Linked DNA regions of Homo sapiens. The protein of the gene in region 2 interacts with the protein of the main gene of each other region in a biochemical or structural test. Each region holds a gene or a part of one and is shown on either strand. Other genes may lie near its edges.

Region 1 (3,657 bases), on a different chromosome or scaffold from region 2:
CCCAGCCCAGTGTAATGTTTTTAATTAGCATAAAAACTTTTCATTCTGTTAGAAAATTAATCAGGAAAAGTAAGAAGTGATACTCATTTATTCTTGAGGTTCAAACAAATGTGCATCAGTTTTCTTAGTGACATAAATGATGATTTTTTTTCTTGTTTTTCCTAAGCAACTCTATAATTCATAAAATGTGTAACTTGATAAAGCAGGAGAAAAAGTTAACTAAAGTCCTGTGAATTGAATAAACTCTGTGACTAAAATACATTTCATTTTAATAAAACAGTTATATTGCTCACCAAAGAGGCCATGGTAAATCCAATGACTTCAATATAACCATCATCATGACGCTGAGGTTCGAAATCATGGTGATCACCTGGGTTTCCCCAGGGCATTGTGCCAGCACAATATCTGCAAGAGAAGATTAAAGACAGAAGTAAATATGTCCCATCCTTCTCATGACTATCATGAGGTGTTAGTTTGTAGTTAGACCCAATGTTTATCAAACATAAAAACAGTTTTCCATTCTTGGTACACACCTTCCATTAGAAAAGGAAATGCACTTCTTATCATCTACAAAATACCAAGCTGTGAAAACGGGCCATAATTTTGCAACAAAAGTATCCTGTGGTATCCAACTTTCTCCTCGTTCGTTATCTATATTTCTCACTATGATTCATGTATGTCTGTTTTCTATGATATATCATGAATTATCTATAGGTGGTTTCAGAATTTGGTCTTAAAGGAAGATGTATGCATGCCAGTAGAAAAGAGACAGGGAAATGAAGTGGGAAGCATTTGCCATTAATACATAAGCAAAATAAGAGGTACTCACAGGAGAAGGGAAAGGTAACTATGGAAGACAGAGTGAAGAAGAGATGAAATATAGATAAGAGATTAGAAAGAGAATGGGAAACAGAAGAAATTGGAGAAATAGAGGAAGAAGAATACAGATGGAAAGAGGGAGAAGCAAGAAAAGACAGAAGAAGGACAAGAGAGGAAGAAGGACAAGAGAGGAAGGACAAGAGAAAGAATAATAAAGCAAAGTAATAAACAATGCTTTCTGAGAATCAAGGCCTTCTACTTCAATTAAGCTGTAAATATTTCTGGAATAAAATTGTAACTGACTATATTGAGCACTGCCAAGAATAATCAGGAGACTATGATGTGTTTTCCTAGCCACAGATTTACATACAACTCTCATTTCAATTAAATTCAGTCTAAATACAATGTATTTGCAGATTTTGTGTCTGAGTTGTTTGGCAGGCAAATAAATGGTTATAGATCCATCCCTTCCAAAATCTTGGCTTCAGGGCCTAGAACATAATTTATGCCACTGAGATAATATGTTTATTTTGAGTCTAGTTATCTTAAATATCCCTTTCTCCTGAAGTGCGTAATAGCACCATGGAGAGTTGACATCCTGGCTAGAAAACAATACTCTAACTCATCCTATTTTTCAAAGAAATCATCTGGCAACAATTTTGAATGAATTCCGCACTTGAATCAGACTGGATGGTTTTTCAACAGTTTTTAGGAAACTGAGAACAAAAAAAGTGTTTCAATTCTCTCATTCTTAGATGGGGAGGAAGAGGGGAAGAACAGTAATTTAGAAATAAATTAAGATGTTCCAGTCAAGAGGGGTGCCTGGGTTTCTTAAAGATGGGTAAGTACAGACAATGCATGCCACATGACGCACAAAACCACCAACCACAAAGAACACTAAATAAACCAAATCGGAGAATGAATTATCAGACCTAGAAATCTTTAATTACCCATTTAGATAACTGATCTTCATTGTTTACATCTGAAACTTTTCTGTTATGAAAACAGATAACCTCAAGTCAGAGTTCACGTCAAACCAAGGAAACAATACAAACAGAGCCTACCTGGGTATATTTAAAAATACTATACACTGGAACTTCAGTTCCTGAATCTTTGGGGTGAGATCTGTTCCATCACACTGAAACAATGAAAACAGAAAAGGGGTTTTGAAGTAGTCACAAGTCTAAAAACCTATGAAAGATAACTAGTTTGACAATAGTACACACCATGGTCTCTTTCTCCTTGCCCTATCTCTGCTTAAGTGAATGCCGGTCACAGTGATTAAAAATATATTCTGGTTATAGCTTTACTGGACCCAGGGTACAGAGGTTGGTTTTGTTCGCACTTAAGGTAAGAACAAAACCTCCATTTGATTAAAATGATTTCTTCTCTGGTCTCACAATCAAAGGAAATATTATCATTCTTAACAATGGATGATTATTAGTTATCTAGACTGATGGTGTCAACATTAAAAGATTTATGAACACTTAAAAGAATGAAAAGAAAAAAGCCTCAAGTTAAAGCAGTAGTATTCACCACCATCATTATCTGATTCAAACAAGTCACAAATATAATGATTTATTTTCTTCGTTTTTTGAGACAATTTTTATTTTGCAAATGTCAAATATTTTGAAGACTTTTTAAAAAGTCTATGTACCGCAAACTTTTGAAAAGATATCTATCATACAGTAGTATTATCTTCATTCGTGGTTTGTTCTTAGAAACTTAATCTTGTACAGACTCACCCAGGCCGAAGTGCAATGGCGTGATCTCAGCTCACTGCAACCTCAGCCTGCCAGGTTCAAGCGATTCTCCTGCCTCAGCCTCCCAAGTAGCTGGGATTACAGGTGCCCGCCACCACGCCCAGCTAATTTTTGTATTTTTAGTAGAGACGGGGTTTCACCATGTTGGCCAGACTGGTCTTGAACTCCTGACCTCAGGTCATCCACCCGCCTTGGCCTCACAAAGTGCTGGGATTATAGGCGTGAGCCACTGCGCCTGGCCATTCAGACTTTAGACTTCTAAGATTCACTGTCTTCCTGGAATTTAGACCTGGGAATCAAGGGTCTCAGCCTAGCTTGGCCTCAACAACCCTCGAACATGGATGGCTTCCCTGATCTGCTAGCGCTTTCTGCAAGGGTATCATCCTTTGATAAATCAAGGAAAAGTCTTTCATGTTCCTTTCTCATTTCCCACTGGTGACAAAAGTCAAAAGAGAATAACTCTAGTCATGACTATAGACTTTCCGATGTCAAAGGCGTAAAGCCTGCTCTCGTATTTGCTTTCCTTATACCCTTATCACAGGATTTCCCCATTACCTTCTCATTTGGAGAGAGGAGCAAAGCATCCCCAAGCTCCCTGCAAATTCTGAAAGAGTTCTTTAGGATCAGTTTCAATCTAAGTATAATGATTTTGCTAGTGGTCAGGTTGTCTCCAGCACCTGCATTTTTTTTCCCAGTCGATCTCCATACAGCCTAATTTTCATGAGTATTCTCAAAGAATTGTTTCCAAGAAATCTTACAATTTTAAATAAACAAATTATTTTCAAATATAACTTAGTAATAAAATTCTAGACATTAAAGATGTTTTTCTAGTACTCTCAACTACTAAGCAAACATCTTCCAACTTACTTAAGAACTTGAAATGAGTTATAAATGACTATGCCAATGAATAAAAAAGTAGACATTGTAAATGTCAAAATTGCATGTTATAAGCAACTAAAACTTAAAACCTAGGATGTGATATATTAATAGTGTATAAAGCATTATGGTTGCATTGCAGAAAGATTATAATAAATATTATTGTATTTAGAACAGAATTCATTTTTTAACTTTCTAC
Region 2 (3,657 bases):
GGAAACCACTAAAATGTGGTACCTGTAGTTTTGCTTTTATGATAGGAGCAAAGCTCTTTGCTTCTCTAAATTGTTTTGGTGTTAGAAAAATTCTGTTACATGGTTAGAATCCCCAGGCTGTAACATCCAAGCATGAAGCAGAACCTCTCCTCTGAGCCTCAGGTTCCTCAATGCTAGAGGATTTTTAGGCCAACGAAGATTAAAGTTAATTAAAGGAGGAACCTCAGGTTCCTCCTCTATAAAAGAAGCATAAATGCCACCAATTTATCAATCCAAAGTGTGGGTAGGATGAATTTAGACAACAGGTCAGTGAGTGCTCAGCATGGCCGTGGATGGTGCTCTACGTTAGTTCCCTTTTAATCATCTGGAAAGGAAGAGAAATGCTCAAACACAGAAGGAGAAAGAAGCTTTTGTGCATGTGCTCAGCCAACATGTGCGCCTTCCTCCTAGTTTCCTGTTGTCTGCAGTGTCTCAAGGGTGACTGGCCAGATGACGTGGACAGAAGTTGCTACTCATGGACAGAGAAAAATACCCAAAGTGCCATTCCCACAGGCAAGCTCTCTTTCCTCCTCTTCAAGTAGAAAGTAAACTACACGGTCAGGAATCTTTTTGTAATACTCAGCTGCACTCAGTGAGAGAAATAGAGACTTACAGGTTTTAAGTGTTTTTTATGTGATAGAAAACTTATCAGGAAATCAAGGAAGTCACCACTGACATGATTGACTCTGAAGTGACACGCAGGAACATGCCAGATTGCCACTGCAAGGGGGTGTGGTATGTTGAATGCTGGCTGATGCTGTGAACTGGAGGATTTGTTTTCAGTTGGGCATGGAAATTCAAATGAGCCCAGCACAGCCTACACAAAGGATACCCTGAGACAACACAGCCCTGGGATGACAGCAATGCACTCGGCTTTAGAGAGCGAGCAGCCGCAGCATGGCTCCACAAAACTGGCAGAACCAGAAACCATCTGGGTCAGGTACAGGTGACCTGAAGGCAGCAGCCAATGCTGATCAGATTGGATGAGCCAGAATAGTGGGACCCACAGGAAAAGATGCCCATGGCCAGGCCTGCTACCCTCTCCACGCAGCCCCAGGCTCTGGGATGTGCTGAGTGGACAGGACCTGCCCAGTGGCCTAGTGTCATGCATTCTTCATTTCCCCAGCACAGGGCCCCTTCCTGGCAAGTGTGTCCCCCTCCCCCAGAACCATTGCCTCTGGCTGTGACATGCCCCTTCACTTGGCCACTCACCGTAATCACCTTGTTTTCTAGATCTGCTCCTCCTGCCAAGCTGAACCCAAGACCAGCACCTTCCTCCTTGTGTAAGATGGTGACATGGATGCCGTCTAATTGCTGCAGAGGAAATACATACATTCAAAAACATTTTACTGCAAGAGGATGAACAATTTAACATCGGACTGACATCAGACTGATTTGTTATCTCAAACCCCAGCTTGGCCAGCCTCCAAGTTACATCACCTCCTCAAACCTCAGTTTCCTCATCTGTAAAGAATGGACCTTCAGGAGTCATGGGAAGCTTAGAAGAAAAAAAAAATGTATGTAAAGCAGCAAGCATAATTATTTTCCTCTCTCATTCACCCTGTCCACAGCCGGGCAGGGGGAGTGCCATGAAGTCAGCCAGAAATCAGCATATTGGACAGTGTGAGATGAAGTCAGGTTGTAGGACTTCAGGTAAAACAAAACAAAAAAAAAAAACAACAAAAAACAAAACAGGGGTCAGTGCTGTTCTGCAGGAATTGGTTGCTCCTTCTTCCCTTCTACTTCTCCATGGGTCACAGCAGCAGCACTAAGGAAGCCCAGCTAACATCCTGCCCCAATGCACAGTGTGCAAGTGTGACACACACACACACACACACACACACACATTACTACGGTACTTCCTAGCCTAGACGGGGACTCCCATGGAGCCAGGACACAGTCAGAGACTCCTATTCCAGTCTAGAGCAGGGGTCTCAAACTCAGATGCCTATAGGAGTCAGGCAGGTCCCTAAAATGAGCCAAATGGGCAGATGTGTGATAGGAACTGCAGAGCGCCAACGAGTACATCTGCTCAAAGGGTCAGCTCTACGTAGGCATACAGAACTAGCGCTACCAGATCACTTCCCTAAAGTCCAGGTTTCAATTCAGGTTTTATCATGTATAGAATTCAATATTTTTTTCATCACCATGCAGACCAAATAAAGTACACCTACAGGTTCTTGGGGCACCTGTTTGTACCTTGGCACTAAGGAGTAAACTTATGTCAAAGAATTCACTTGCTCAGCGTCACTAGAGCACCTGACTTGCAGCTGTCCCTATGATCCTAAGACTTGGAGCCCCTAAGACCCAAAGGCATGGAAGGATGAATGTACCTCACTGCACCCTCACCTCCAAGCCCCAACACTAGCCCAACTCTCTCAACTTTTACCCAAGTATCAGGTTACTTGCCTTGTAGAAGGCTCTTCTCATGTTAGAAAGCAAATACTCTCCCCAGAGCAGCTCAGGCAGGATGGCTCTTTGTGTTTTACACGCTCTGCCTCTGTTATTTCATTTGCACTGAGTAAGATCCTGGGGGATGATGGTCCCAGGTGACAAGTGAAAGCCACAGCGAAAGAATCTCAGCACAGCAGCACCTTGGGCTCATCAGACTCACCTACACTCTTGATGTGGAAATTGCAGCTATGAGGCCTCCTTGTATGGAAAACGAGAACCTCCTTATCCTCTCATCCTAGCCTGGATCATTCTAGTGCCAAAAGCCTACGGAGGCCTGGGGCAGCACCTAGAGGGTGCAGGACCCATGAGCCTGAGCTCATTTGACTGCTGGCCCCAGCTCAGCCTGGCCACTTCCTCCCCACACCCCTTTGGGTCATGCTCAGAAAACATATGGGAAGTGAGACTTTCAGAATGACTTGACTGAAGCGTGGGGGACTTGTGAGCCCTGGGATCAGCCACCTCTCCATGCACAGTGGAAATAATGAAAGCTCCAGGTGAGAGCTCTTGTAACCCACATTGTTTACAATGGACAGCATCCCACAACAGACACATGCCAGGACAGCAGCACATGGAATGTGGAAACAGCACTGAACTTGAACTTGGAGACAGAAAACCCAGGTTCTGTAACCTTGATTGAGCCTTACCTTTCTCATTTATAAAATGACAAAAGAAGATGCAAGAAGTCAATCTACTGAAAGTGGTTCACAAGCTAAAAGGCTCTCTTCAAATGGAAGGTCTTACTGTGGTCAAGTGCTACAGTGTCCCACCATCACAGGACGCAACCTGGGTCTGATGTGAGCAGGCTACTCAAGCTACTTCCCCTCTGGCCCAACTAAGGTGGCCACACAGCCATAATAAGCCATTGGTTACTGCAGATGCTTACAAAGGAAACCTACCTTTAATGTTGCTTCATCCAGAACCTTCACCTCCTCGATGAGTTTTTTTAATTCTTCTGAGCTCAGCAGGGAGATAACGGACTGACCAGACTGAAGGGAACTGTGGTCCCCATCATCGTCTTCCTTGGCTTCCGTGAGACCCTCTGTATATTCTCTCAGCTCTGAAAGGCTTTCATAAGGAGAAACAACACACAGTATGAACAACAATATTAAAAAGAGGTAACAGTGATTGTATAATTACTATGTCCCAGGTGTGGTGCCAAGCACT

What was found. Proteins that work in one complex are often made in the same cells at the same time.
Region 1: the proteins of IL16 (region 2) and DGKI interact in a test that uses a peptide from one of them, tested with the Homo sapiens proteins (one large-scale study listed by IntAct).

What each region holds. Positions count from the first base shown.
Region 1 is NC_000007.14:137,570,882-137,574,538, forward strand, and holds part of DGKI (diacylglycerol kinase iota), read right to left. Parts: intron 1,958-3,657; coding exon 1,884-1,957; intron 406-1,883; coding exon 294-405; intron 1-293. UniProt on the Homo sapiens protein: Diacylglycerol kinase that converts diacylglycerol/DAG into phosphatidic acid/phosphatidate/PA and regulates the respective levels of these two bioactive lipids.
Region 2 is NC_000015.10:81,301,245-81,304,901, reverse strand, and holds part of IL16 (pro-interleukin-16), read right to left. Parts: intron 3,559-3,657; coding exon 3,390-3,558; intron 1,354-3,389; coding exon 1,252-1,353; intron 1-1,251. UniProt on the Homo sapiens protein: Interleukin-16 stimulates a migratory response in CD4+ lymphocytes, monocytes, and eosinophils. Primes CD4+ T-cells for IL-2 and IL-15 responsiveness. Also induces T-lymphocyte expression of interleukin 2 receptor. Ligand for CD4.